Linked DNA regions of Homo sapiens. The protein of the gene in region 2 purifies or fractionates together with the protein of the main gene of each other region. This does not show direct contact. Each region holds a gene or a part of one and is shown on either strand. Other genes may lie near its edges. The genes, in order: ACP3, AIRE, SMC3 and CTSH.

Region 1 (7,474 bases), on a different chromosome or scaffold from region 2:
CTTAAAAAACTCAAGTGGGTGTGTGTGGGAAATGAGTGGCTATGCAGATGAAACAAGATTGCATGGGTGATAGTCTTTGAAGCTGGTTGATGAGGACATCCAGATTCACCATATTTACGATTCTTTCCATATAAAGTTAAAAATGTCAGTTCTCTCAGTGTTTTCTACAGGACATTGGGGAAAAAAAGAGGGAGGTGAATGCTGTAATCAAAATTTTGAAAACAGAGTTTGGAAAACACTAGATCCTTTCCTTGAAAGCCACAGTGCGTATTAGCATGTTAAAGACTTAGGATTACTGCATTAAAGAGACCTTTTAAACACAGTTTAACCCAGTTCTATTCCCAAAGCTAACTTGACTATTGAAACTGATTTTTTCCCCATGTACACCTGTTAACAACTTGTCAAACTAGCATTTCATGGGTCACAGGCACTTCAGTTAGTCCGAGAACAAGAACCAAGGACAGTTTCCTCCTCTTTCTGCTGAGAACAGCTTTTCAGAATTGGGGAGGATTTATTTTTCTCGGATCACAGAGGAAAAGCAAGGGAACCACCTGCTGATTCAGAGTCAAGCTAATCCAGCAAACCTTACAGGGGGATCTCAGACTAGCTCCATGTGCTGGGTTATATACACACAGCAGGAAAAGACCATGTCTAGTGATAAAGGGAAAGGCATCCGGGGTCAGAGAGCCTGGGTTCAAATTCTGTCTCCACCATTCCATCTGTGTGACCATGGGCAAGATGCTTAACCTTTTTGTGCCTCAATTTCTTCATCTATAAAATAGGAATAATAAGTTTTACAAAACTTTATAGAATGGTTGCCAGATTTGGCAAATAAACATACAGGATGCCCAAATATTGCATGGGACTAAAAAATTATTTGCTATTTATCTGAAGTTCAAATTCAAATGGTCATCCCATATTTTATTTAACGACCTTATTTTAGAGGATTGTTGACAGGCTTATGTGATACAATTCATATTGAACACTCAGAACAGTGCCTTGTAAGCACTCAATTGCAGTAAGTACTTGCAGTAAGCACTCAATTGACTATTGGTTATTATCATTAATATTACCACTTTAGTTATGGGCATCTTTTAAAACAATTCTGGTTCTCCTAATAATTTTCTAAGAGTTATCTCATTTGTATAAATTAACCACTTATAGTCAAATATTCTCTTTAGTCAATAAAAATAAGAAACTGATGTTTATTGGCTTAAGTACTTAGATGGACGTTGTTTTATAAGGGCCAAGAAAGATGTATTAAATGGCCCTTCATCTACCATTAATGGAAGGAAATCATGGTAGGAAAAAATAGTTAACACTGGCTTTGTGCAATATTTGTTAATTTTTTTAGTTCTAAGAGAGCTAGCTTTGTATTTTGGCTTTCCTCAGGAAAGAATTAACTTGCAGTCCCTGAATATAGGAAACCCACAACAATTTGGTAGTCAAAGGAAGTTAGCCTGGGCTAACTTGGGTAAAACATGGAGGAGGGAATACATCATGTACAGTGAGCTTGGAGTAACTTGGATTTCTCAGAGGACTGCCACTCAACCAGCTTGTCACAGGTTTACAGTATTACAAGCACGGCAGATGCAGTACAATTTCTACAGTCCCTAAACTTGCCTCATGCACATGTTAGCAAGAAAACTACTGATAGAAGTACAAGCCTAGCTCACATGGGTTTCCCTAAAGAAGGCACACAGTATTATATATTTTTTTTCTGCACAGAAGTCTGACAGCTGGTGAATCATTTGTAAATAAATTGATAGTTTGTTTCACTGGGTTTTCTGTCATTGTTGACTCATGACCTAGTAAGGATTTACTGGACTATAAGAATAATGATTCAAATAAGCACATGGGTATCATATTTTCTGTAGAAAGTAAAGAGCTTTGAATATCCCATGCTGAAAAAAAAAAAAGCCTGAACTTTAATTTTTAAGGAAACAGTGACTTTCCTTCAAATTATAAAAATAATTTTTGAGTATTCTTGACAGAAAGAAAATTTACCTACTTATCAGCCCACTTTCACTATCTCAAATAAAAAAATGTAGGGAAGAGAAAGAAAACGAGAGAGGAAAGGCAAGAAGCAGCTTAGAGGCTTAGAGGCAGAGAAAGAGTGAAACAGAAGGAAAAAAAGATACAGAAACAGAAAATCAGACTCTTAGGTAACATGATGAATCCCCTTCACTTTGCAAACCCTCTTTCCATCTATTTTCAAACAATGTCAACAGTATATTTTCTTTTCTTGATATTATGCATCAGCCACCCCCCACCTTTTTTCATAACTGGTCACATGTGCCAATGATTTTAATCGTCAACTAAATCTATATATCAGAAAATCATCCTAAAATTCCAAATTTAGATTCACTTTTATGCTTCAAGGTTGTTTACAAATAGTTGTTCTAATTTCCTGATAAACAAAGGTGAAAGGACTACTTAATTCAGAAAATGACTGTTTTTTGGCTTGCAAACAAATAATGATTAAATTGAATGAAGCCAGCTCTTGGTACATAAACAGCGCCAGCTGTGGTTTCTTCTGGACTGGTGTGGCTGTCAAAAGGAATCTGAATTCAAGGCAGTTGTAAAGTAAGTAAATAAATAACATCAGCAAAAGCAAATAAAAAGCAACCCCTAAAAAAACAGCGACCAAAAAATATTTTTGTTAGGACACGTTAGGTCTTCATTAAGAGGAACTTGCAAAACTTGATTATTCACTTTCTGAGTTTGAACAGAGCCTGGTCTCTGGGAAACAATCCAAGGATAAGATGAAACCTGACGCTTGCCTTATCAGACTTTGCTGGGAACACAGTTTTAAGGAAAAAGCAATGAGAAAAGTCTACTTACCAAAGTCACAAACTTCAACTCCTTGGCTAGTACACTTCGGTCTAGCCAGAAAAAAAGCAGAAACAAGAAGCCAAGGCTAAGGCTTGCTGCCCTGGCCAGGAGGAGGGGTGCAGCTCTCATGTTGAGGAGAGCTGTTTCTGGCAGGAGTTAGGAGGAACTGCTACCACTTCAAAAGCCTGTAGAGGGGAAGCTATTTAATTAAGGGATTGAAAGGGAAGGAGGAGCCACACTCATAAGTAGTAAAGTTTCCAGGAAGCGTAGGGCAGGTTTGGTATGTAAATAATGTCATGTAAATTTTGAGCTGAGAGAGATCACAGTTTCCCCATTTAAGTTAGGACACCAAGGCCAAGAGCGGGGAAAGCTGTTGATCAAGGTCACAGAGCATGTTAGCAGACATTTCTATCCTTGTTTTCAGTTTACTTTTATCTTTGTTTTTTGTTTTTTTTTTTTTGAGACAGAGTCTTGCTCTGTCATCCAGGCTGGAGCACAGTGGCACAATCTCAGCTCACTGCAAACTCCGCCTCCCAGGTTCAAGCAATTCTCCTGCTTCAGTCTTCCTGAGTAGCTGGGATTACAGGCGTGCACCACCACACCCGGCGAATTTTTGTATTTTTAGTAGAGACGGGGTTTCACCATGTTGGTTAGGCTGGTCTCCAACTCCTAACCGCATGATCCGCCTGCCTTGGCCTCCCAAAGTGCTGAGATTACAGGCATGAGCCACTGTGCCAAGCCAGTTTACTTTTATCTTTTCTTTAGATAGGGTATGATACAGCGTTGGATTTGTGGCTGTCACTTGGGAAAGGGATCTACCCTGACTTTAGAAACCTTAGACCAGTGATTCTTAATCTGTTGGGAGTCCAAAGTTATAGGACTGAAATCTGGAAGGAAATACAGGTGTTGACATATTTGGGGCCTATTTCCATGCCAAACATGGCTACTTTTTCAAAAACTCTCATGTAGCCTATAGAGGTATTTTTAAATTAAAGAAGAAAAGTAACAGCAAGTTTATTTTGAAAAATTTTAGGCTGGGCGTGGTGGCTCATGTCTGTAATCCCAGCACTTTGGGAGGCCGAGGTGGGCAGATCACTTGAGGTCAGGAGTTAAGACCAGCCTGGCCAGCATGGTGAAACCCCATCTCTACTAAAAATACAAAAAAAAAAAATTAGCCTGGCGTGGTGGCACATGCCTATAGTCCCAGCTACCTGGGAGGCGAGGCAGGAGAGTCACTTGAACCCAGGAGGTGGAGGTTGCAGTGAGCCGAGATTGTGCCACTGCACTCCAGCCTGAGTGACAGAGCAAGACTCCATCTCAAAACACAGCAAAACAAACAAACAACAACAAAAAACAAACAAAAGAAAAATTTTAGTCACACCTTAAGACAATTGGACATTACCTGTGGTATCTCAAAATTAGATTGGAGGTCCCTTTCCAAACCTGACAGAGTTTTTTAAGAAAGCAAAAAGCCCAAACCTACAATTCTATATTATTAGTCATCAACTTTGGCCATAAGCCTTAAATTTTGAGTGAGTTACATCCTTGCCTCTCCAGCTATGATCTCACTGGGGACACTACAAAAGGCGATCCAGACTGATGGAACTTTGCTTTCCATTTTCCCCAACCTGTCAGTTCCATCATAGGCTAAAACAATACAAACTTGAGGTGCACATTGAGATTTTGCAAGATTTGGGGGCAGAGCTGCCTGTCATGATATTTCTATCATAATGGCAGAGGGAGAACAATGGTTTACCCGCAACCTGTTTCCTGGTACATTGCGCTTACCTGTGGCAGGAGGATTGTGTTCTTATGTGATCATAGGATGCCCTGGAATGTGGTATATGGGAGAACTGTTCCTTCTTCCGGCAGTAGGAAACATGCGCAAATAGGCTGGGCATGGTGGCTCACGCCTGTAATCCCACCACTTTGGGAGGCTGAGGTGGGCAGATCACTTGAGATCAGGAGTTCGAGACCAGCCTGGTCAATGTGGTGAAACCCCATATCTACTAAAAATACAAAAATTAGCCAGGTGTGGTGGTGGGAGCCTGTAATCCCAGCTACCTGGGAGGCTGGGGCAGGAGAATCACTTGAATCCGGGAGGCTGAGGTTGCAGTGAGCTGAGATCACACCACTGCACTCTAGCCTGGGCAATAGAGTGAGACTCTGTCCCCCCTCCAAAAAAAAAAAAAAATGTGCAAATAATAAATGCATGTGTGATTAGGATTAACCATTCAAGGGAACTTGCAACTTTCTCTTTGCCATCACATTCTCGACCTGCCAGTCTACACTGTCAATTTTAATGAGTAAGATTTTGAGGAAATGGGTGCAAGAAAAAGGAAATAAAAATTGGGAGGTTTTCCAGTCCAGGGCATACATGAAGTTGATACATTAATCCCTGCTGTGTGCACCAGGCAATCTGAGAAAGGAAGCTCCAGCACCTATGTACCATTCACAGGCAAATTTCTGAACCACATTTCTTAAATTGTGCCAGATGTCTGCTTCTATTGAATGCCTTATTTTCTCAGCTATCTGCCTGGGTCCTTGTTCTATCTCCTTCCTTGTCTCACCCTTGGACTGGTGCTTGGAACTATTTCAGCAATAGCCTTAGACCTTCCTGATAATGAAGACTGATTTTATAATCTACCTATACCATGTTGCACTGGTTGGATAAACCCTCTTTCTGACCTAGACCCTAATTTTTTCTGTGGTACCGCCTGTGGGGTCCTTTTAGCTCTTCAAGTGAGAAGGGCAACAACAACAAAGTTTTCTTTGAAAACCAGAAAAAGCCTGCTTGAATTGAATACATCTCAACTCAAACTTAATCCAAGTTGAATTAAATGGTTTATACTTCTATCTCAATCATCATCCTCACTTCCACTTTGATCATTCAGTTATAAGGGGAGAAGAAGTATTCAAAGTCATAAATGTAGAGTCTTGAAAAACCTGAACACCATGAAATGGAGTGTAAAAGATCCTCAACTCAGATGAAACCTGTTTTAGAATGTTCTGTGGCACCTTGAACTTTGAACTCAATAAGGTCTTTGCAAAGACATAAGGGTCATCTGGGATAAATATATGGATATAGTATGTATTAGTCCACGTTCATACTGCTTTGAAGAAATACCTAAGACTGGGTAATTTATAAAGAAAAATAAATTTAATGGACTCAAAGTTCCACATGGCTGGGGAGGCCTCACAATCATGATGGAAGGTGAAGGAGAAGCAAAGGCACATCTTACATGGCAGCAGGCAAGAGAGTGTGTGCAGGGAAACTGCCCTTTATAAAACCATCAGATTTCATGAGACTTAATCACTGTCACAAGAATAGCATGGGAAAAGCCCTCCTCCACGATTCAATTACTTCCCACCAGGTACCTTTCATGACATGTGGGGATTATGGGAGTTACAATTCAAGATGAGATTTTTGTGGGGACACTGCCAAATCATATCATAGTAACATCAAAAGTGAGATTTGAAAAAACACTGGGAAGTCTTTATGTAAGAGTTTAGGGTGTCAATAATTTTCCATGATTAGTAGGACTTACTGACTGAATCACTTGTGTTCTCTTGTTGTACTTCTTTCTCTATATGTCAAGTGCTCAACCTCAAATGAACTGTTCTAATGAACAGTTAGAAAGTTCCATAAGTGGAGCAGGTTAGGATTTTTGAAAATCAGACTCCCAGATAGATATTTGCATGTAGGAAGTTTATTAAGGAGTGCACTCAGGATTAACTCCAGTGGTGGGTAGAGAAATAACCAAGGTTGGGCAGAGGGAGAAGTTGATTTGTAATGCAATATTGTTGAAGATGTCAGCTGACCCTGTTACAAGTTCTGAAGATAGGAGGGCCTTTCAGGGTTGTCTTGAATTGAGGTGAGGAGCCAGGCCTTTTTTATTAGCCAGTCATTGGACGTAGTCTGCCCCTGGTAGGGAGTATGACCATGGATAAGGCAAAGGTGACTCTCTTCTGCCAAAATAATTCCCAAAGGGGTTGCTAGCTGAGTGATGTCAAACAAATTTCCAAGAGCTAGGAGCAATGAATCCTTGGGCAGTGTAACACAGAATCTATGATGATGAACACTTATAGGAAAAAAATTGTGATCCTTAGTAGATCACAGCCTATGAAAGCACTAAATATGCCTCTGACCATAAGAGTCTGAGTTGGGAGGTGAGATCCATCAGTAAGTATATGGCTGTTCACCAGCATCACAAGGAAGACTGTGTTTAACCTGTCTGGCTTCTTATGGCCTTCATAATTGTATTATTTGACTCTCAGGGCCTTATGAACTATTGGGTACTCAATAATACTGATTGACCAACTGTCAATATAAATGCAAATGACTGCATCAGAGCCCTGTTACAATGTGAATTGCTTTGAGGCAAAATTTAATAAGATGGCTTTAGAATAAATGTTCTCCTCTTCTCAAACCATCATTTTGTGGAGGGCCTTTTTGCCCTCGGCATAAAATAACTATTTTATTGTTTAGTATTTAGACAAACATCCCCCATAAAACCAAAGACTGTATCATAAGAATGTCATCAACTAAGGTGTGTGTACCTAGGGGATTCATGCAATGGTCTAACACTTTAAAAAGTAAAGAAAGTGTTAAAACTTTTATTTCTGTTTATTTTTTTAC
Region 2 (6,934 bases):
GGCTGGCCAGGGAATGGCGGGCGAGGATGCTGCAGGCTGGCCAGGGTATGGGGGGCAAGGACGCTATGCTACAGGCTGTCCTGGTTGAAGAATGCCGATACCCTGGAGGGTCTCAGCAGCACAGGCAGAACTTTCTAAGGATGCAACCCCATGGCCCAGGAGGGCCCATGCACATGGATGGAGGTGACTGGGGAGTGCTGTACATCCCGGGTGGGGATGTGGGCCTGGACCGCTGGCCTTGCAGAAGGTCCCCCGACAGGGAGACTTCAGTGCTCACCCTCCTCCTCCAAAGTCAGCAGAACCACAGGCAGAAACTCTGGCTACCTGAGCAACAGTCCGGTCTGCTGTGGGACCACCAGGATGCAAAGGGGCGTGGTCCTCCTTCCATCTTGGAGCCTGGGTCTCCCCATCAGCCCCATCTCCCCGCCACAGCGTCTACCTGACTCAAACACCTGCTGGATGAGGATCCCCTCCACGGCCCCTCGGGCTCCCGGGACGTCCCCGGAGGACATGGCCACAGCTCTCTGGACTGAAGCTGACATGGTCTGAATCCCTGGGAAAGGGAACACCCATTGGGGTCACCCGTGGGGAAGACTGTTCCCAAGCACATACTCTATGCCAGAAGCAGGCAGCACTGGGCTGCAGAGCCCTTTCCTTCCAGCCAGGGCAGGCCAAGGAGGGGACCCAGCCCTGCCATGTGCAGACAGCCCACAGGTAAGTGCAGAGACATGAGAATGTGTGTGTTCGTGTGTGCACCCAAGTGTGCGTGTGCTGGGGGGTGGCAGTGTCAGCAGAGCTGGCACAATGGATAGGAAGGCATGACCAATGACCAGACCCACCCCCCCATGACATGGGCCCTGTATTGTGCCGGGAGGGACACAGAGTTCCTAGGCTCTGCCCTCAGGGAGATAGGGGGTCTCTGGAGTCCAGTGCCCTGGGAAGGAAGGAGAAGGGGACAGGAAGGGTTCAGCCTGCATGCAGCTGGGGGCCAGGGATGATTTTCTGGAGGAAGCTATGTCTAGGCTGGTCCTGAAGGATAGGGAGTGGACGGGCAGAGAAGGTGCCTGAGAAGGGGGTCCCAGAACCAGGGTGCAGTGGGGGCAGGGGCGACTGGCAAGATCATGCTTAGACCCAAGGTGTCCCCTTCCTGGGTCTGGTGGTGCAGCTTAGGCCCTTGGAATGACACACCAGGCCAGCACGTCCCCAGCCCCTAGGACAGGGTCTCAGAGGGCAGGCCCTGCTCTGACCCCTGACCCCTTGCCCCTGGCCAGGGAGAAGGGAGGCGCTCCCACTGGGCCCCGCTCACCGTTCCCGAGTGGAAGGCGCTGCTGCTCTGCGCTGCTCTCCGGCTTCTTGGGGGGCTTGGCCTTCAGTTGAGAGCCTGAATGGGGGAGCTGGGGGCAGCCTGGCCTCCCCTCTCAGTGGGGGTGAGTGCCGGTGGGCAGGGGCCCGCGGTGGGAGGGCGTGGAGGGGGCGGTCCAGTGCTGGGTAGTCCCTTTGCCGGGCTCTGGTTTCTCATCAGTAAAAGGGAAATGAGACCCGCCCGCCTACTTCACCAGCTCCGGGGAGCTCAGCCTTCAGGCAGGAGGGAGCTGAGAGGCTGGTCCAGTGTGTGGGTCTAGTACCCAGAGGAGACCCCCACAGCCCCAGGCAGGCTGGCCCCACACCCAGTGGGTGGGAGCCCGGGTGGGGAGGGGGCGTGGGCTCCCGGGGAAGCCCGGGAAGACTGGAGACCCTGGCTGGCTTCCCCTGCAGGGAGGGTACCTGGGCTGGCGGTGCCCCTTGGAGTCAGGGCTGCTGGCGCGGCAGCTCGAGCCTCTTCTGAGGCCTTCCTCTTGGTGGGGAGTCTGGGTGGCGGTACCAAAGCCTTGGGGACGGCCGGGGGCTTCCTCCCCTTCCGGGGCTGGCTGAGGTCCACATCTGCAGCTCAGGGGCAGGAGCAGGGTCCCAACCTCAGGGTTTTCTCCAGGGGTAGGGTGGGCCCCAGAACTGGACACCTTGGCCAGACAGGTGAGGCCTGGCCCCTTTGCCTCTTAGGATCCAAGACGGTCCTGGAACATCACCCACGGGCTCCTCAAACACCACTCCGGTTCCAGTCCAGCTGGGCTGAGCAGGTGACAGCAGCTGCCCCAGGCCCCCAGCATGGCTGAGTCCACCAGGACCCACCTTTGGGGAAGCTGTCCAGGATGGGCTGCAGCCGGCCATAGCGCTCCAGGTTGTAGTCCTTGAACAGCACCCTCCAGAAGTCCAGGATGGCTGTGGAGTCCTGGGTCAGCAGCCAGGACAGGAGGGCGTGGAAGGCCTGGGGGCAGCCCTCCTTTTCCTTCAGATGAAGCGTCTCCTGCAGTGGGGTGGCATGAGGGTCCCTGCCATGGTCCCCCACACCCTGCGGCCTGCCCATCTCCATCATGACTAGAGGGTGGAGCTCCCAGGCAGAGGCGCTGGCGACCTGGACAGCTCCACGCCCATCTCCTCGGCTTGTGGTGGAGTCAGGTGGTGGTGTAGGGGTGTTGAGGGTGGGGCTGGGGGAACCTGGAGGCCATTCCCTTGGCTTGGGGGTGAGGTGTGGGGACGGCTGGGGGAAGGGGACCAACTTCTAACTTGTCATCAGGGACGCCCCTGGCTCCTTGTGGGGAGGGAGTTGGGGAAGGCTGGAGGGGCTTGGGGATCTGGAGGGGCGGGGTCCTCCTGGAACTTCCCCGGGGACTATCCCTGGCTCACAGGGCCTGGGGGCAGCGGGGGGCGGGCGGGGAGCCCACCTGAAACTTGTCCTCGGGGACCACGTCGTGGTCAGCCAGCGCGTGCAGCAGTGGGAAGGCGCTGTCCACGGCCACCGCGATCTCCGTGCGGTGCAGCCTCAGAAGCCGGCGTAGCGCCGCGTCCGTCGCCATGGGGTGGGCGCGGGGACCCGGGGCTGGGGCGGACGCGGTGGGTCCCGGGACACTGGCAGCCCCTCGCTTGGCCTCGGGTCCCGGCGGGGCTGTGGGGCCTCCGCGCCGGCTGTGCGCCCGCCCGTCTCCCCGGTCTGCGAGCCACGCGCGCCGCTGTTATACCCCCGCGACCACGCAAAGAGCAAAGGCCGCTCCGCCCCGGCGCCCAATCAGGGCCAGGGCCTCCCGCAGGGACACTTCCCTGTGATGGAGGCGCTGCTGTCCCTCCCTCGCTCTCGGGAAGTCTCCGGGCCTGGCCTGACTCACCCACCAGGGCAGCTGCCTTGGGGGCTGGGGACAGAGACTCGCTCTGTGCGGGACTCAGAGAACTCTCACTTCCGAATGTGGCCCTGTCCTGCCTCGGCGAGGGCCCTGCTCGAATGGGGCAAAGCCGAGACAGGTGCCCTCGGCGGGGAGGCTCGGGTCTCAGGGCCCTGGCAGGGGCTGCCCAGGGTGCACCGGCCCCTCCCAGTGGCCGGCAAGAGCCTCCATGGAGGCTGGATCGGGGTGGTGTTCCTGGGGGACCTCCACACAAGCTGAGAGCCCCTACTCAGGGGCCCGCCTGGGGCTGTGGGAGGAGCCCGATGGAGGCTCAGTCTGATGCAGGAGACGGTACGGCAGCCTGGGTGTTGCCAGGGAGCTCCTGACCTCACCATCTTAGGCTAGCTGTGTGACGCCAGGCAAGTCCTTTCCTTCTCTGAGCCTCGGTTCCCTCATCTTTAAAAGGGGCACACTCGCCTGGGGATTGAGGCTCGCATTGACCCCCTCCTTCCTTCCTCCAGGTGCTTTAGAAGGAAGGCGGCCAGCCCCACAACGGGGGTCCTGAGTGTGGCCCTGAGTGAGAGCTCCCAAAGGGTCTTCCTAGGACCAGTGACAGAGGCTGAGGGATGCTGTGGCCTGGACAGGAGCTTCCGGGGGCATCTGGGAAGGTGTCCGGGAGGGGAGCTGCAGTGGACAGGAGCCGAGGGTCCCAGGTGGACGTGAGTGGGGACAGTGCCCCCAGTAAAACAAGACCAGGTGCAGAGGCCTGGGGCCTGCAATGATGCTGAGGCTGTGGTGGCCCCGCAGGCATGGCCTGGAGGGGGGGTGGCCTCAGTGGGAGGCCTTGGTAACAGTCCCCTTGTCTGTGCGGTCAAGCCAGGGAAGCAGGCCCTGTGTGCAGGCTGCAGAGAACCACGAGAGGTCTCTGGGCACGAGTGTTCCCACTGAGCCAGAGAACGAGATGACCTGGCCAGCATGGATTAGGGCTGAAGGGTGGACGAAGGTACCAGGAAGCCTGAATCCAGGCAGCACTGGGCTGGGGGCTAACTGATGCAGTGAGAGACGCCACCAAGATTCCCACGTGGGCAGGCGTGCCGTTTGCTTTTGGGCAGCCAGAGTCCAGGATGGAGAGCGGCAGACACCTCTCCTCTAGACCAGGGGTCGGTCTCGGTTTCTCCTACCGCCTTCAGGCCCAGGGTCCCCCTGAGCGTTCTGCACGTCTGAGATTGCTCCGGAAAAGACTCTAGGGGTGTTTGGGAACAAACCTGGGGAGGAAGGTGGGGCCAGAGGTGGTGGCCGAGGTGGTCAGCCTGGGGTCAGGTGCTGGGGACGTCATGGGGAGCTGAGGGGGAGGGGGTCCATCTCAGTGGTGGCTGTGGAGTATCAGGCAGTGCAGGGTTGGAACAGGCTGGCTCCTGTGTGGAATGTCCTGGGAGCCTTGAGCGGGGAGCAGGGCCCTCTCGCTGCCCAGGCCTGGGCGTCTCTCACTCCCTGCACTGCGCCTTCCGAAGACCCCGAGAGGGAAGCCCCCTGCCTGCATGCCTGCCTTGCCGGTCCCCGCTCCAACAGACACATCCTGTCCCCAGCCAGGCCGGGCTGCTGCTCGCTGGGTTTCCTGCCCTCTCCCCTGCAGTTCTGTATTTACAGCAAAAATATTTAAATAACTGCAAGCGAAAGTTGCACAGAAGCCCAGCTTTGCACAGGATCCCTGTCTGCTCCTGAAACACCCCCATTCTCCTTGCTCATCCATGGGCAGGGGTCTCACGAAGGGAGAGCTCACTAACATCAAGTTCAATGGCAACCCTTGGGCCCACTGGCTGCACAGTTCATGCATAAAAGCCCCTGGGGTGCCAGGGAACCAGCGCACACAGCTTTGGGATGACCAGTAACCGTTGCTCCCAGCAACTTGGCTTTCCTCTCCTTTGAGGCTGTGGGGAAAAGAAAGAGAGATCAGATTGTTAATGTGTCTGCATAGAAAGTAGACATAAGAGACTCCATTTTAATCTGTAACCCTACCCCCAACCCTGTGCTCCCTGAGACATGTGCTGTGTCAACTCAGGGTTAAATGGATTAAGGGCTGTGCAGGGTGTGCTTTATTAAACAAATGCTTGAAGGCAGCATGCTCGTTAAGAGTCATCACCACTCCCTAATCTTAAGTACCCAGGGACACAAAACACTGCGGAAGGCCGCAGGGACCCCTGCCTAGGAAAGCCAGGTATTGTCCAAGGTTTCTCCCCATGTGATAGCCTGAGATATGGCCTCCTGGGAAGGGAAAGACCTGACCGTCCCCCAGCCCGACACCGTAAAGGGTCTGTGCTGAGGAGGATTAGTAAAAGTGGAAGGAACGCCTCGTTGCAGTTGAGACAAGAGGAAGGCATCTGTCTCCTGCCCGTCCCTGGGCAATGGAATGTCTCGGTATAAAACCCGATTGTATATTCCATCTACTGAGATAGGGGGAAACTGCCTTAGGGCTGGAGGTGGGACAAGCAGGCAGCAATACTGCTCCTTAAGGCATTGAGATGTTTATGTGTATACATATCTAAAGCACAGCACTTAATTCTTTACCTTGTTTATGATGCAGAGACCTTTGTTCACGTGCTTACCTGCTGACCTTCTCTCCACTATTATCCTATGATCCTGCCACATCCCCCTCTCCGAGAAACACCCAAAAATGATCAATAAATACTAAGGGAACTCAGAGGCCAGCGGGGGTCCTCCGTATGCTGAGCGCCGGTCCCCTGGTCCCCCAATTTCTTTCTCTATACTTTGTCTGTGTCTCTTTTCCAAGTCTCTCGTTCTACCTAACGAGAAACACCCACAGGTGTGGAGGGGCAACCCACCCCTTCAGAGGCCATCCTGCCCCAAAGTCACCCCCTGCAACCCGGTGGCTTTTCCCTCCCCAGATGGTTAAGTGAGTCAATGGATGCCTTAGCCCAGAGATGGTTAAAGGGGAATTAAAAACTGCAAAGCGAGATCCAAGTCTGCACTTCACTTTTTAAAAAAGACCTGCAGTCTTTGCGGGTCACCTGTGTCATTGGGCTGGGGCCTGACCCCTGTGGGCAGGCGTCACCCAGCCTCTTGCATGGAGGTTTAACAAAGAGGCCCCTGTAGAATTTCGGACTTTCCACCATGCCGTGGGGCTTTCCACACCAGCCCCTTGCCCGCAGGTGACATGGAGCCGCCACGGCTCCCTGGAGGTGGCACAGACCCCTGGAGGGGGGTGAGGGGCTGGGGACTCGGCCCTGTCTTCAGTGGGACTGATGCCTTTGTGGGACTGAGCCTCAGTTTCCCCAAGAGGCACCTGGGCAGCAGAGCTCTGGGACAGTATTGGGCTCCATCCCTGAGCCCCGTGTCCTCGGCTGGAGCGGGAGGGCCCCGCAGCCCTTTCTCCCACATCTGTGCTGTGCCCTTGGACGCCTGCGGACCTGCCATGCCCCGGGCTAGGCCCTGAGAGCTTTGTGATTCTGCTCACTCCATCAGCAGAACGGTCTCCTCAGGTCATCATCGTGATTAGTGCCATCCACAGATATGGAAACTGAGGCCTGTTGCCGGGAGGAGCTTGGCCAGAGTCACGCAGCTGCTAAGGGGCAGAACCACGACTCGGACCTTGATGCACGGAAGAACAGAGGTTCTCCAGGTCCATGCTCCTGCTGTGCCGGGTGCCCCTCAGGTGCCCAGGTCACGTCAGATGTTCTCAGCCTGCAAAGTGGGGGGACGCGGCCCATGTGATGTGTATAGAAGTT
Region 3 (7,024 bases), on a different chromosome or scaffold from region 2:
AAGTCAAGTACCTCAAAGCAATTACACTGTTCTAAGAATGGTGTCTGAAGAATATTTTTAATCCACCTAAAGTGCACTTTTGTTACCAACAAAAGCAATGTTATGCTTCCGAAGTCTATCACCTTACTAGCCATTTTTTTCATTTAATCCTAAGTACGTCAAGACACTTTTAAACTATACATGACAGTTCCTTGGGAATCTTTCTCCAACTCCCTAACCTTAATTATGTCACTCCCAGATATGCTCTCAAAGTATCCTGTACTTACGCTTTTAACACTGCACATTTGCAATGATTTGTTTCATATCTTAGCTTTTTTCTCTTCTTTTTAAATGATCCTCCCACTTCAGCCTCCCAAGTAGCTGGGATTACAGGCGTGCATCACCACACCAATCATAGCTGTGACTTCTGTCTCCCTCCCCAAAACCCACTCAGCACTAAGGTCCATGGGAAGACAGATATTTTTATCTCATACACCACTGAATCCCAGTGTATAGTGCCTGGGCACTAGCATGTGTTAGATTATGTGATAAAAAATAACATTATAAAAGAGAAATACACCTTATCACACAATGACTCACATTGGTTTCAGGATAGGCTGTATCCCTGACATCTAACTTGTTAAGAGGCAGAAAAGTAACCTCTCCAGGAAGATTCATTTTATTAAACTCCATTAAAATCTTCGTGCTGACTTCATCTGAATCAACAATGTGATAAAATAACCTAAATATAAACAGAGTAAGACAAATCTTTATTGGTACTCAGGGTCTCCCTATGTTGCCCAAACTTATCAATCCTCCCACCTCAGCCTCCTGCATAGCTGGGACTAAAGGTGTGCACTTTTAAAATGTTATAAACACTTAAGCATCAAACAGTTTTTTCCTATATAATCCAAATAATTTTGGAAAATAAGACTACTTTAAAAATTCCAATGGCGGGGAGGGAGAAACTCCCAAAAGAGGAAAGTTCTAGCTTCTATAATTAGGAACAAATACTTAGCATCTACTTCTTTAATTAGAAAGTTAAGGAACCGAGATATAAAAAGATAATGGAAGATATGTTGTACAAAAACTACAAAAGTTGTTTAAGCTATTCTTATTCCCTCTTCTAAAAATGCTAAATATCAAGCAAAAGCTTTAACCTGTTTCCAGCAGTGACTTCCACGCATGTGTAGAAAGCTGGTTCACATTCAAAGTTATTCATTACAATACCATGATAGCCATTTTGAACATGCTGGTTTATTCCTTTTCGACGGAAGTGGTCTAGCACTTTGTTTATGCTGTCTATTCCATTTAAAATGGCCTGTAAGTTGTCAGAAATGAAAAATATTAAAATAATATCATCAATGGCACTCCTGGTAAGGAATGAGCCCACAACACCATACATTTTAAAAATATACCAGTGATTAAACTAAACATCCTCTCCAACAAACACATCACCTCCTCACAATATGCCAACTACATGTAACACCTTATATGATAGGCTCTGTTCCATAACAGTAGTGTTAAAAATGGGCTCTTTATCTGAACATCAAAAGTGCTATTAATAGTATGTGTAGTAATAAAACTATTTAATCTCTATCATTTCATATTTAGAAGATAATTTGGACTCCTATTTATCACTTGGAACCCATGACCTACACCTTGAAAGGTAAAAAATTATTACATAACGATTAACTCAATGACTCAGTGTAAACAGAGGTGATGAAAAGAACCTGCCCACCTTTCCTGTTGCTGCTCTAAGAAGTTGTTGCTTCTTTTCAAGATCTTCTCTTTTAGCAGCAAGTGCTTGCTGTTCTGCATTCTCTTCTCTCCACAAGTAGCTAATAAATAAAAAGTAGACTGTCTTTAATTTTAAACACATATGAGGATGCATTAACAGTATACAGTTTAGAATCAAAATACAGAAAACAAGCCTGACCGGTTAACTTGTAACTTAAAGACCACATAACAGCTAGTAACGAACATTACTGAAAACATTAATGCACATTTTAGTCTATACTAACTTTCTTTCACTTTGTAGTTCATCTTTCTTATTTTTTACTTCGTAATATTTTCTGTCCAGTTCTTCTACTCGAGCTTTGACTTCATTAAGATCCTGGTCCAGTTTCTATGGAAATAAAAATAAATTTAAAATTCAATTTCATGAAACTAATCTACACTGATAGAAAGCAGATCAGTGGTTGCAGATGGATGGGGGAGGCGGACAAAAGGTGAGGGAGGAATTACAAAGGGGTATGGAAAACGCTTTTGGGTAATAAACGTGTTTATTGTCTTAACTGTGGTGTGTGGTGTCTTAACTGTGTGGTGTTTTACAGATGTATACGTATGTCAAAACTCATCAAATTATATACTTTATTTTTGCCACTTTCCTGACTAGGAAAAATGATGTACACTAAATATGTACAATTTACTGTATGTGAATTATACCTCAATGATGCTGTTGAAAAATCCAATTTCAGTTTGTTTTTTTTGTTTTTTGTATTTTTAGTAGAGACGGAGTTTCACCGTGTTAGCCAGGATGGTCTCGATCTCCTGACCTCATGATCCGCCCGTCTCGGCCTCCCAAAGTGCTGAGATTACAGGCGTGAGACACTGCGCCCGGCCCCATTTCAGTTTTTAAAAGTTGTCTTTAGGCAAAAGAGCATACCACACCAGAAAACACAAACCATTAAATACTATAAAACATGTTGCTAAAAGTTAATTTGTTCATTAGTGATCTAAATCTTCCTATTTCTATAATATACACTCCAGAATTTTAGAAAAAAAATTCTAAGTTCTCATAATAGTCCATTATATACTTTCATACTGCCCCCTCTACACACACACACAACAGAACACAAAAACTATTTTCAACTATTTTACATTCAAGAAAAATGAGTTAAAAATCTTGGCAGAACCTATAACAAATCTCTAAGAACCTAACGTAAGATGCTGTTTCCTTAAGGAGAATTAATGAACTGTATTCATTAATTTAGTAGACTATACTGAGCTGAAAAAATCCAATAGCCTCACTGGCTAGAGTTTAAGGAAGCTGACACTTCATCCACTTAGTGAAGTTACCAAAACCCCAGTATGTACCAGGCATTCTTAGAAGAGCTGGGGAATCATAAAAGACCAAAGCAAACAAAAATCCTTGCCTTACTGGGAAGCAATAAGACAAGCAAAATAAAGCTGAAGATCATCCTTCAGGGGAAGGGCTTCAAACTGCTTCATAAAGTAATTACATTCATCTGTTTGTATTATAACTAATTATTGTCAGATATCAAAGTAATTGTAAATATTCCCACAGAGTACTGACAATTATTCATCCTCAGTAGTAACACTGACTTTTTGTCCAAAATTTTAATGGACAAAAGTCAATGTTACTACTAATTCCACTGACAAAAAGTCAATGTTACTACTGAGTCACAAAATCTTAGATTGGCCGGGCGCGGTGGCTCACACCTGTAATCCCAGCACTTTGGGAGGCCGAGGTGGGCAGCTCATGAAGTCAAGAGATGGAGACCATCCTGGGCAACATCGTGAAACCCCGTCTCTACTGAAAATACAAAAATTAGCCAGGCGTGATGGCACACGCCTGTAGTCCCAGCTACTGGGGGAGGCTGAGGCAGGAGAATCACTTGAACCCAGGATGGGGAGGTTGCAGTGAGCTGAGATTGTGTCACTGCACTCCAACCTGGTGACACAGCGAGACTCTGTCTCAAAAAATCTTGGATAATCAGAATGACTTTTAACATCTTGGATAATTAAACCCTTTAATTCTACACATAAGGAATTTGGGACTCAGTGGTATCTGAAACCATAAAAGAGTTAACAAATTCCCTAGGTAAAATTTAACTTTTCTGCAGCAATTACTTAATTCATCCCCAGGCTATCTGAACACATGCTAAAAGAAGAGTATAAACCTTGAAGAGTCAGTTTTCCTAAATTAATGTTTCAACTTTTACAGTCCTAAACAATTCAGACTGTTGTGTTATTAACTAGCATTACAGCTTACAATATTTCTTTTTTTTTTTTTTTTTCTTTGAGACGGAGTCTCGCTCTGTCGTCCAGGCTGGAGTGCAGTGGTGCAATCTTGGCTCACTGCAAGCTCTGCCTCCCAGGTTCACGCCATTCTCCTGCCTCAGCCCCCCGAGTAGCTGGCACTACAGGCGCCCGCCACCACGCCCAGCTAATTTTTTATATTTTTTAGTAGAGATGTGGTTTCACCGTGTTAGCCAGGATGGATGGTCTCGATCTCCTGACCTCGTGATCCGTCCACCTCGGCCTCCCAAAGTGCTGGGATTACAGGCGTAAGCCACTGCGCCTGGCAGCTTACAGTATTTCTTAAGTCCTACATACTTTGTTTTTTTCCAGGTGTATCTGAACACTAATGGTTCCCTTTCTGACACCATGATGCTACTCAGAACCAGTAATAAAGTAAGCTACCTATATTAAATTCAAAATATAATGTTTTGTAGACTTTATTAAATGCATTACAACCTGGAAAAGAGAAAACATTTAGTTTGCACTGAAACTATCTAAGAGCTTCCCCTTCTCCACAGCAGTTGCTACGGCCAAGATACCACTGACATAAGTTAGAAAAGTCTAAAAACTTAAGTTTGATAAGTATGTAGGATATGTATCACATAAATGAACTGTAATAAAGCATAATAAAACCACCAAAAAGACATTTTATTTTTCATACTGCAGGTTTTAAAAATACACTGTGGAAAAATTAATTTAGGATTATACCAAGAGGCAAAAGCCTATTTACACCGGGCGCGGTGGCTCACGCCTGTAATCCCAGCACTTTGGGAGGCTCAGGTGGGCGGATCACCTGAGGTCAGGAGTTCGAGAACAGCCTGACCAACATGGTGAAACCCTGTCTCTACTAAAATACAAAAATTAGCCGGGAGCAGTGGCGGGCGCCTGTAATCTCAGCTACATGGGAGGCTGAGGTAGGAGAATCGCTTGAACCCAGGAGGCAGAAGTTGCAGTGAGCCAAGATCGCACCATTGCACTCCAGCCTGGCAACAGAGTGGGGCTGTCTCAAAAAAAAGGCTATTTACATAACAAAATCAGCGCCATAAAATCATCTCTGTCCAAAGGAAAGGCTTCATCTTTACAAGTGGTCATTCTGATAACCAAAAGTGTGGCTGGAATACTGGAAAATAATGAACTTCAAGCATGACAAAAAATGAATAAATTCTCTCACTGGAGGCACCTTCAAAAAGGGCATCTGCTGAGGTTGGTTTCATAAACTCAAGAGAAAACTCATTTTATTTCAAGAAAGGAGGTGTTAACTATCAGTTCAGACTATACTAACCATATAAAGAACTGCCTGGATTAACCCAACTTTTCCACTCCTTCCACAAAGTATCACAACTAAAACCCACAGCACGACTGGACTTCCAAAAACAGCAGGCTACACTCCTCGCAATTTTACCTACCTATTGTTTATGCCTACAGAGGCTGTTGTGTTTTCTCCCCACTATATATTTTTTTCTTTATGTAAAGTGAGAATATGAGTACAAAGTAAACAGCTCTTTCTTTAAAACTTCACTGAGGTTTTGGATACATTTAAAGGTGAGTCACCAAAAACTTAAAGTGGGCAAATCACTATAACAGATTAGGGGCCAGGCATGGTGGCTCACACCTATAATCCCAGCACTTTGGGAGGCCGAGGCAGGCAGGTCACAAGGTCAAGAGATCAAGACCATCCTGGCTAACACAGTGAAACGCCATTCTACTAAAAATACAAAAAATTAGCCAGGCGTGGTGGCATGTGCCTGTGGTCCCAGCTACTTGGGAGGCTGACGCAGGAGAATTGCTTGAACCCGGGAAGCGGAGGGTGCAGTGAGCCGAGATCGCGCCACTGCACTCCAGCCTGGGCGACAGAGCAACACTCCATCTCCAAAAAAAAGAGATTAGGGACAAATAATTATATATAATATACAATTAATAAGTACATAAATATTAATATATGTACTTTATAACAAATAATTTAAAATGTCAAGTCCCAAAAGTCAAGAAAAAACTGAAGAACTGGTCCAGATTAAAGCAGATAAAAGAAACATGACAACTAAATGTAACATAAGATGCTGGAATACCAAAAAATGAAGTTTTAAAAAAAAAAAATTACACCGGGCATGGTGGCTCACGCCTGCAATCCCAGCACTTAGGAAGGCTGAGGTGGGTGGATCTCGAGGTCAGGAGTTCAAGACCAGCCTGGCCAAGATGGTGAAACCCCACCTCTACTAAAAATACAAAAAAATTAGCCGGGCGTGGTGGCAGGCACCTGTAATCCCAGCCACTCGGGAGGCTGAGGCAGAGAATTGCTTGAACTCAGGAGGTGGAGGTTGCAGTGAGCTGAGATCATGCCACTGCACTCCAGACTGGGTGACACAGTGAGACTCGTATTAAAAAAAAAAAAAAAAAATTGTTACTATCAGCTGGGCACGGTGGCTCACGCCTGTAACCCCAGCACTTTGGGAGGCTGAGGCAGGCAGATCACCTGAGGTTGGGAGTTTGAGAGCAGCCTGACCAACATGGAGAAACCCCATCTCTACTAAAAATACAAAATTAGCTGGGCTTGGTGGTGCATGCCTGTAATCCCAGCTACTCAGGAGGCTGAGGTTGCAGTGAGCCGAAATTGCGCCATTGCACTCTAGCCTGGGCAACAAGAGCCAAACTCCATCTCAAAAAAAAAAAGTTACCAACAAGCTATTTTAGACATATGTTGTGACATCTTGTTAAATTAAGGGTATGTAAGACACATGCTACCAATTCATAAAAACATATTTTAAGCTGGGCACAGTGGCTCATGCCTCTAATCCCACCACTTTGGGAGGCCAAGGTCGGAGGATTGCTTAAGCCCAAGATTTCGAGACCAGCCTAGGCTACATGGCAAGACCTCGTCTCTACAAAAAAATAAATAAAAATTTTGCTGGGCCTGGTGATACATGCCTGTGGTCCCAGTTAGGAGGCTAAGGATGGAGGATCGCTGAGCCTGGAAGGTGGAGGCTGCAGTGAGTTGTGTTTG
Region 4 (7,024 bases), on a different chromosome or scaffold from region 2:
TCTCAGTGAGTTTCCTCAGGCCGGGTGAGGCCCCTCCTCAGGCTCCCACCACACACCATGTGTGCCCACCTCTGCCAAAGCCAGCACAGGACCATCTGCTACCAGACCCTAAGCTCCTTGAGGACAAGGATGCTTTAATTCTCTCTGAAATTATCCCATCCCCCAGGCCCTGGCACATCTTGTTTTGTTTAGTAAATGTTATTGAACTGCGTGGGGAGGCTGAGACTTCGGGTCCATAACCTGTATTTCATGCCCTTTGCATCCTCAACAGGATGGTTATTGCAAGTTCCAACCTGGAAAGGCCATCGGCTTTGTCAAGGATGTAGCCAACATCACAATCGTGAGTGCCGATCCCCCTCTGGGATGGGGAATGTGTCCTGATGAGGAGGCCTCTCTCATGCTGTCGGATAGCCAGTGGGCCCAGCAAGGCAGCCCTTCTGGCAGCACATCCCTTTGACGAGTTCATATTATCCCTGGGTCTCAGTCGCTGTGATGGTGGCGAGGCAGGAGATGGGAGGGAGAGCGCAAACTGGCAGGCAGGCCCTCTGGTTCTGAACTCCAGATCCACACATGCCTTCATTCTTTTGGTTCTGTTTTCTTGCTTGTAAAATGCAAGCAATTGTCCGCATCCTGCAGAAGAGGGTATGAGCACGTGCTTGACACAGCGTGTGTGAAACTGAGGAGGGTGAGTGTGTGTCACTCAGGATGAGCCAGGTTCTGTTGCAATAACAACCGTGCCCAATCTGCATGGCTGACAACAGTCAAAGGGTGTGTGGCACTCCTGCGCCCATGCACAGCTTAGGGAGGGTGGTGTGTGCTCCGTGTCATTGGCCTCACGCCAGGACTAGAGGGAAAGAAGGTGGTAAATGATGCCCTAGCTCTAAAGCCAAAACAAGCCGCCCAGTCACAGTTGACCTCAAGTGAATAGGGAAGTGTGGTCTTACCCTGCTTCTCCCAGAGAGAACTGGAACGTGAATGAACGCCTTCGTGACTGCAGTGTGCATGCATGCAAGTGTGGGAGGGTGTGTGAGGAGTGGAGGAATATCGCTTAGGTTGTGTGTGCGCCCACGAATGTATGTACAGTTCACAAACGTGATGTCTGTGTAATGACAGCGGCTGCCATTTAGTTGAAGCATGTGCCAAGCTCTCAGCAATAACATCTTAACTTGATGGAGTACTTCTAGGTGCTGTACCAACCCTCAATACGCACTATCCCCTCTAGACCCGAACTGGCCCTAGGAGATGAGTATCCTTATTACCTCATTTGACAGGTGAGGAAACGGGGGCTCCAAGTGGTTAAGTAATGTGCCCAAGGCCACAGAGCTAGGAAATAGATGCTGGATTTGAACTAAGAATGTGTCATTCCAGAACCAGGGCTCATTGCCTTGACAACATACAGCGCAAATCCTGTACTCAGGATGTCACCCTCTTCAGAATGTTGCTGCTGTCACTCAAGCTGGCTGCTCTGGGCCATGATATCCCAAGGACAGGTGAATTTGGGCCTCAAAGGTATCCCTTTGCATGGTCCCCAGGAGAGCCTCATTGGTGACACCTGCAGGGCCCTGACGACCAGGCCAGAACTAGCATTCAGCCCTCTTGGGCAGGCCCATGGGGTGGAAATGGTGCCACCTGCAGAAGTCATCGCCCCTGTGCTGGGCTGGCCTCTGTGCCCTCCATGTCTCAGATATGCCCTGACCTGTTGGGCTCACAAGGCCTTGTCCACATACCAGGAAGGAGGGCACTCCCTTGCCAGGCACCTGTTTGCTTTTCACAGCTGGGTCTCTGTCCACCCCTCTAGGGAGGCAGGACTGAGGGAGGCTGGGCGCCCCGTCCCTCCTGCACTTGCTTTCCTTCAGTAGGGCCCTGGCCTCAGCACAGGTAACTTCCCCCCTCATTTCAGCTCCCAGAGGTCTCTTGGTTAGTGCACTTGAACCCAGCCACCCCCAACCCAGAAGCTCCAAAAAGTGCCAATGCCTGGGACCCACCCTGCAGATACTGTTGTAGTTGGTCTGAGGCACAGCCTGGACTTGGGGTTTTTTTAAGGTTCTGCATGGGGTTCTACCTGCTGCTGTCACCTGGTCTCTGCAGCTCTGTTCCAAAGCTGCAGCCTCCAGGAAGCCACCCTGACTTCCCCCCACCTACCTTCCCCCTTGGAGGGGACAGGTTCTACTCAGAAGTCACACAGCCCTCGGATGGGTCTTCTCGTTTCCACCGCCATCTGGGACCTACCCGTCCATGGTTTATAACCCCTGTGTTCTAGCAGCAAAGCTTTGTAGACTCTGGGTTTATGGGTGTAGGGGTGAGAGCTGCTGGCCCAGGAGAGGACCTCAGGGAATGGATGTGAATGACTGAATGAGTAGGTCCACGCTGTACCCCGTGGTCCCTATCTCAGAGGGTGCAGGGTTTCCTAGGAGCAGAGTTGGGGAGAGGAACGAGAGATGGCCAGACAGACCCAGCCAGAGACAGGAAGGGAGAGAGGCCGCAGGGGAGCTGCTTCTGGCCATCCATGCTGCTCTGGGCCTCTAGCCCCTAGCTTGAGGCAAAAGGCTGTACTGTGAAAGGAGTGGGGAGGTGACAGGCCATGTGTTTCTGTCTCGGTCCTGTTTCCACAGTATGACGAGGAAGCGATGGTGGAGGCTGTGGCCCTCTACAACCCTGTGAGCTTTGCCTTTGAGGTGACTCAGGACTTCATGATGTATAGAACCGGCATCTACTCCAGGTGAGTCAGGGTCCCAGGAGCCAGGAGGGACAGTGGGGAGGGGCTTGGTGGGCCTCCTCACACCCCACTCGTGGGACTTGGGCTCGTGGCCCAGACTCCTGTGTGTCAGACCCTTCATGACACCTGCCAGGTGCTGGGCGTTTTGCACATCCCTCAGTTAATCCTCACACAGCCCCAAGGGCCAGGAGCCATGGCCTCTTCTCACAGCAAAGGAGAGGTGGTCAGAAGGGATACGACAGACACAGGCCACCTGGCTAGTGAGAGCTAGGGCCAAAATTTGAGAGCTTTGTGCTCCTTAACAGAAGAGTTGCCTCCAGTTTAAAAAAAACCCATGTTCAGGCCAGGCGTGGTGGCTCATGCCTGTACTCCCAGCACTTTGGGAGGCCGAGGCAGGTGGATCACTTGAGGCCAGGAGTTCAAGACCAGCCTGGCCAACATGGCGAAACCCCATCTCTACTAAAAATACAAAAAAAAAAAAAAAGCCAGCGTGGTGGTGCATGCCTATAATCCCAGCTACTCGGGAGGCTGAGACACAAGAATGGCTTGAACCTAGGAGGTGGAAGTAGCACTAAGCCAAGATCGTGCCACTGCACTCCAACCTTGGTGACAGAGCAAAGCTCTGTCTCAGAAAAAAAAAAAAATACCCATGTTTAAAGATTTGAAGACGTAAAATAGGGAGAAGAGTAGCTGCCCTCACACACTAGGATCCTGTGCTGGAGGAGTCACCCCAGGCTTCTTCAGAAAAACCAAGCTTTAGCCTCTTTACTATGGGGTTTCTCTCACCCACACCTTTTCGCCTGCCTGGTTTGCAGCCTCATTTCCCTCCCTTCATCAGTTGCTGCCCGTTAACGTCACTCACTAATGTCACTCACGTCTGTGCTCTCCTCTCCCTCCCTGAGGCTCTGCCCTGGTCACCATTGTCCTTGGACCCCCTAACCCCCCACACACTGTTCCAGCTTCCACTGGGAGCTGTCTGCCTTCTGAAACACTCCTCTTGCCAACGCCAACCTTTGAACACACCAGTGTCCCTGCTTTCCCAGGGTCCTACCCTGAGGGGGACCCTCATGATCTGGTCCTCCCTCTTTTTCCACACTCATCTGCCATCAAACCCGTCCCCGCCGTTCCACCCTGCAGCCCCCACCCCAGCCACGCAGAAGGGTTCGCAGTTCCATGGGCGTTCCCCGCCTCCACAGGGAGCCTTCCCTGACCCACCCTGCCCACCCTCCCCCCCCCCCCCGCTGGGTTGGATCCCCCCCACCTCCTGGGGGCTCTGTCGCCCTCCCACTGTCAGAGCCCTCAGGCCACTGTAGAGAAGCAGCCTCTTTGCCAACCTGCTCCCTGCCAAACAGGGCTTCCAAGGGACAGTTATGCATGCTGCCTGGATCCCGGCACCTGGCCCTGGCGCGAGCCTATGGCCCACTTACACATCAGCTGAATTCACACCTGACCACTGCAGTTTGTTCTCTTGAATTTCTTGGAATTTCCTTATGGAGGCTAGTTCACTTTTGTAAACAGAAAAAGTTGTATTTTTGCCATAGGTATAAAGTAATATTTAATAAATGCAGTGGCAACAAAGCAAAGCTGTGTTAAAGTCTGCCAGACACTGTTGCCTACAGAAGGTGCAGCAGGAAGGTGGCTCTCTCCTTGCCAGGAAAGAGGGAGTAGAAAGTGTCAGGGGTGAGACACGGGCCAGCACCATATGGAGATTCTCCTGACAGAAGCAGAAGAACCAAAAGAACTGAAAGGGCCGGGTGCGGTGGCTCACACCTGCAATCCCAGCACTTTGGGAGGCCGAGGTGGGTGGATCACCTGAGGTCAGGAGCTCGAGACCAACCTAGCCAACATGATGAAACCCTGTCTCTACCCAAAATACAAAAATTAGCTGGGTGTGGTGGTGCACGCCTGTAATCAGGCTACTCGGGAGTCTGAGGCAGGAGAATCGTTTGAACCCTGGAGGTGAAGGTTGCAGTGAGCAGAGATTGCACCATTGCACTCCAGCCTGGGCAACAGAGTGAGACTCCGTCTCAAAAGAAAAAAAGAACTGAAAGGAGTTCTCTCACGGAGACTAAATGTGATTACATCACCACCTTACATGCCTCCCTGGTCCGCTGTGGGGAACATTGCTCTAAAGCGCTCAAAGAGGCGTTGTTGGATGGGACTGTCATTGCTTTTATCCTTCCCATATGATCACCTCTTTTTGAATTTTGTTTTCCAGTACTTCCTGCCATAAAACTCCAGATAAAGTAAACCATGCAGTACTGGCTGTTGGGTATGGAGAAAAAAATGGGATCCCTTACTGGATCGTGAAAAACTCTTGGGGTCCCCAGTGGGGAATGAACGGGTAAGCAGCTCCCAGGTCCCACTTCTGGGAGGGGGATGTTGCTCAGGCCTGGAGGCCCTGGGGGCATCACTTCCACCTCAGAGTTACGGCTTCCACAGACGAGCTGGTCAGCCAAGCCCTAGGCCAGGCCAGGGGGAAAGGGAGCATGAGAATGTAGCCTCCACATTTCCAAGCCCCCATTTGCAGCCCTCACAGGGCCCCAGGTCTTTAGGACGCTGCAGGGAGAGCAGGAGGCCAGCTGGCTCAGAAGGACTGCTAGGAAAACAGCTCAGAACTTGGAACTCTGCTGGCACGAAATCAGTGTCTGGGAGGGTCCGTCTTTGAGAAATCAAAGCAACAAATGTACCCCTGATCACTGACAGCCCCTCCTTCCGGGAGAAAAGGCTGGCATGGGGCGGCCTGGGTGTATATGCTGCTGTGCCTTTGTCCTGTCCTCCCAGATTCCATGTCCTTGTCTGAAAAGGAGAGCTTTCCTGTTCCCTCGGGCTCCTGGTGATAAAATAGCTGTGTGAGGGCCCGGCCAGGGCTAAGAGGGGGCCCTCGGTAAATTTTCGGGAGAAGTGGGATATGGATCATTCATTTGGCAGCTAAGGAGAGGGAAGAATGAATTCTTCACAAAGTCAGGTCCGTGATTTGCCGGTGATCAAATAAGCCGAATGCTACTGTTTTATGAATAAATTTAGAGGGTCTCACCCCTGAAGTCAGCTCTTGGTGAGCAGCAAAACATTCTAGAAAGGCCTGTGGTGGGGAGACCGCCGGCCGGGCCTCAGCTCCTCTTTCTGCCCAGGTACTTCCTCATCGAGCGCGGAAAGAACATGTGTGGCCTGGCTGCCTGCGCCTCCTACCCCATCCCTCTGGTGTGAGCCGTGGCAGCCGCAGCGCAGACTGGCGGAGAAGGAGAGGAACGGGCAGCCTGGGCCTGGGTGGAAATCCTGCCCTGGAGGAAGTTGTGGGGAGATCCACTGGGACCCCCAACATTCTGCCCTCACCTCTGTGCCCAGCCTGGAAACCTACAGACAAGGAGGAGTTCCACCATGAGCTCACCCGTGTCTATGACGCAAAGATCACCAGCCATGTGCCTTAGTGTCCTTCTTAACAGACTCAAACCACATGGACCACGAATATTCTTTCTGTCCAGAAGGGCTACTTTCCACATATAGAGCTCCAGGGACTGTCTTTTCTGTATTCGCTGTTCAATAAACATTGAGTGAGCACCTCCCCAGATGGAGCATGCTGGTCCTGGGCCATGACTCAAACCAGGTCTGTCCTCGCCACTCAGTCTCCCAGGAGGGAGGCATCAGGGGGTGTCCAGGCTCTGGCTGGGAGGATGGTGGGGGTGCTGGCGGTATTATCCACCAGATGGGGTATCCAGGATGAAGAGCAGGCTTAATTTGAGATCTTGACTATTTGTCCCAAACCTGAGTGGAGAGGTGGGGAGGAAGGAGAAAAACGGGCCAAGCTGCGGCAGAGGCAGGATTCAAACCCACAATGTCAGCCCAGAAGCCTGTACTTCTCTGTGTGGCCTCCCCAGTCTCAGCTGCCTACTCCTACTCAGACTCTGCCCCCCACCTCCACATGAGACTGCCCACCCCTTCCTCACCAACCCCTTATTTATTTCAAACGTGCCCAGATGCTCCTGTCGTTTCCACACCATCCCTTCCCTTATCTTGCCTTTTGAGAAATCTTGATCTCTGTTTAGAGGGCGGCCATGAAGTTGCTGCTGCTTCCTGAAGCCTCCGGGCTCTGGGATGTCTGTAGAACAAGCTGGAGTCCACCAGCTCTTTGTCCTATGGCTCACAGACTTTCTTAATGATAAAAGCTGTCATCTTATTTGGGCTTCCTGAAAAGCTAAAGGCTTGAGAATATTTGAAAAATATATATGTTCATGATAAGGCTTATTTAGATAATGCAAATATAGTTTAATTTATTAGAAAATTCTAGTAACATAAGACCACAACTGTATA

The links.
Region 1: the proteins of AIRE (region 2) and ACP3 purify together in Homo sapiens (affinity purification with mass spectrometry; 2 studies listed by BioGRID and IntAct, with this or other methods). This does not show direct contact.
Region 3: the proteins of AIRE (region 2) and SMC3 purify together in Homo sapiens (affinity purification with mass spectrometry, with the first as the bait; 2 studies listed by BioGRID). This does not show direct contact.
Region 4: the proteins of AIRE (region 2) and CTSH purify together in Homo sapiens (affinity purification with mass spectrometry; 2 studies listed by BioGRID and IntAct, with this or other methods). This does not show direct contact.

What each region holds. Positions count from the first base shown.
Region 1 is NC_000003.12:132,312,947-132,320,420, reverse strand, and holds the start of ACP3 (prostatic acid phosphatase isoform PAP precursor), read right to left. Parts: upstream 3,015-7,474; 5' UTR 2,965-3,014; coding exon 2,845-2,964; intron 1-2,844. UniProt on the Homo sapiens protein: A non-specific tyrosine phosphatase that dephosphorylates a diverse number of substrates under acidic conditions (pH 4-6) including alkyl, aryl, and acyl orthophosphate monoesters and phosphorylated proteins.
Region 2 is NC_000021.9:44,281,964-44,288,897, reverse strand, and holds the start of AIRE (autoimmune regulator), read right to left. Parts: upstream 3,023-6,934; 5' UTR 2,892-3,022; coding exon 2,760-2,891; intron 2,342-2,759; coding exon 2,167-2,341; intron 1,921-2,166; coding exon 1,765-1,920; intron 1,382-1,764; coding exon 1,307-1,381; intron 554-1,306; coding exon 440-553; intron 1-439. UniProt on the Homo sapiens protein: Transcription factor playing an essential role to promote self-tolerance in the thymus by regulating the expression of a wide array of self-antigens that have the commonality of being tissue-restricted in their expression pattern in the periphery, called tissue restricted antigens (TRA).
Region 3 is NC_000010.11:110,584,688-110,591,711, reverse strand, and holds part of SMC3 (structural maintenance of chromosomes protein 3), read right to left. Parts: intron 2,108-7,024; coding exon 2,004-2,107; intron 1,821-2,003; coding exon 1,721-1,820; intron 1,301-1,720; coding exon 1,140-1,300; intron 722-1,139; coding exon 580-721; intron 1-579. UniProt on the Homo sapiens protein: Central component of cohesin, a complex required for chromosome cohesion during the cell cycle. The cohesin complex may form a large proteinaceous ring within which sister chromatids can be trapped.
Region 4 is NC_000015.10:78,921,029-78,928,052, reverse strand, and holds the end of CTSH (pro-cathepsin H isoform a preproprotein), read left to right. Parts: intron 1-271; coding exon 272-340; intron 341-2,612; coding exon 2,613-2,719; intron 2,720-4,934; coding exon 4,935-5,060; intron 5,061-5,847; coding exon 5,848-5,923; 3' UTR 5,924-6,995; downstream 6,996-7,024. UniProt on the Homo sapiens protein: Important for the overall degradation of proteins in lysosomes.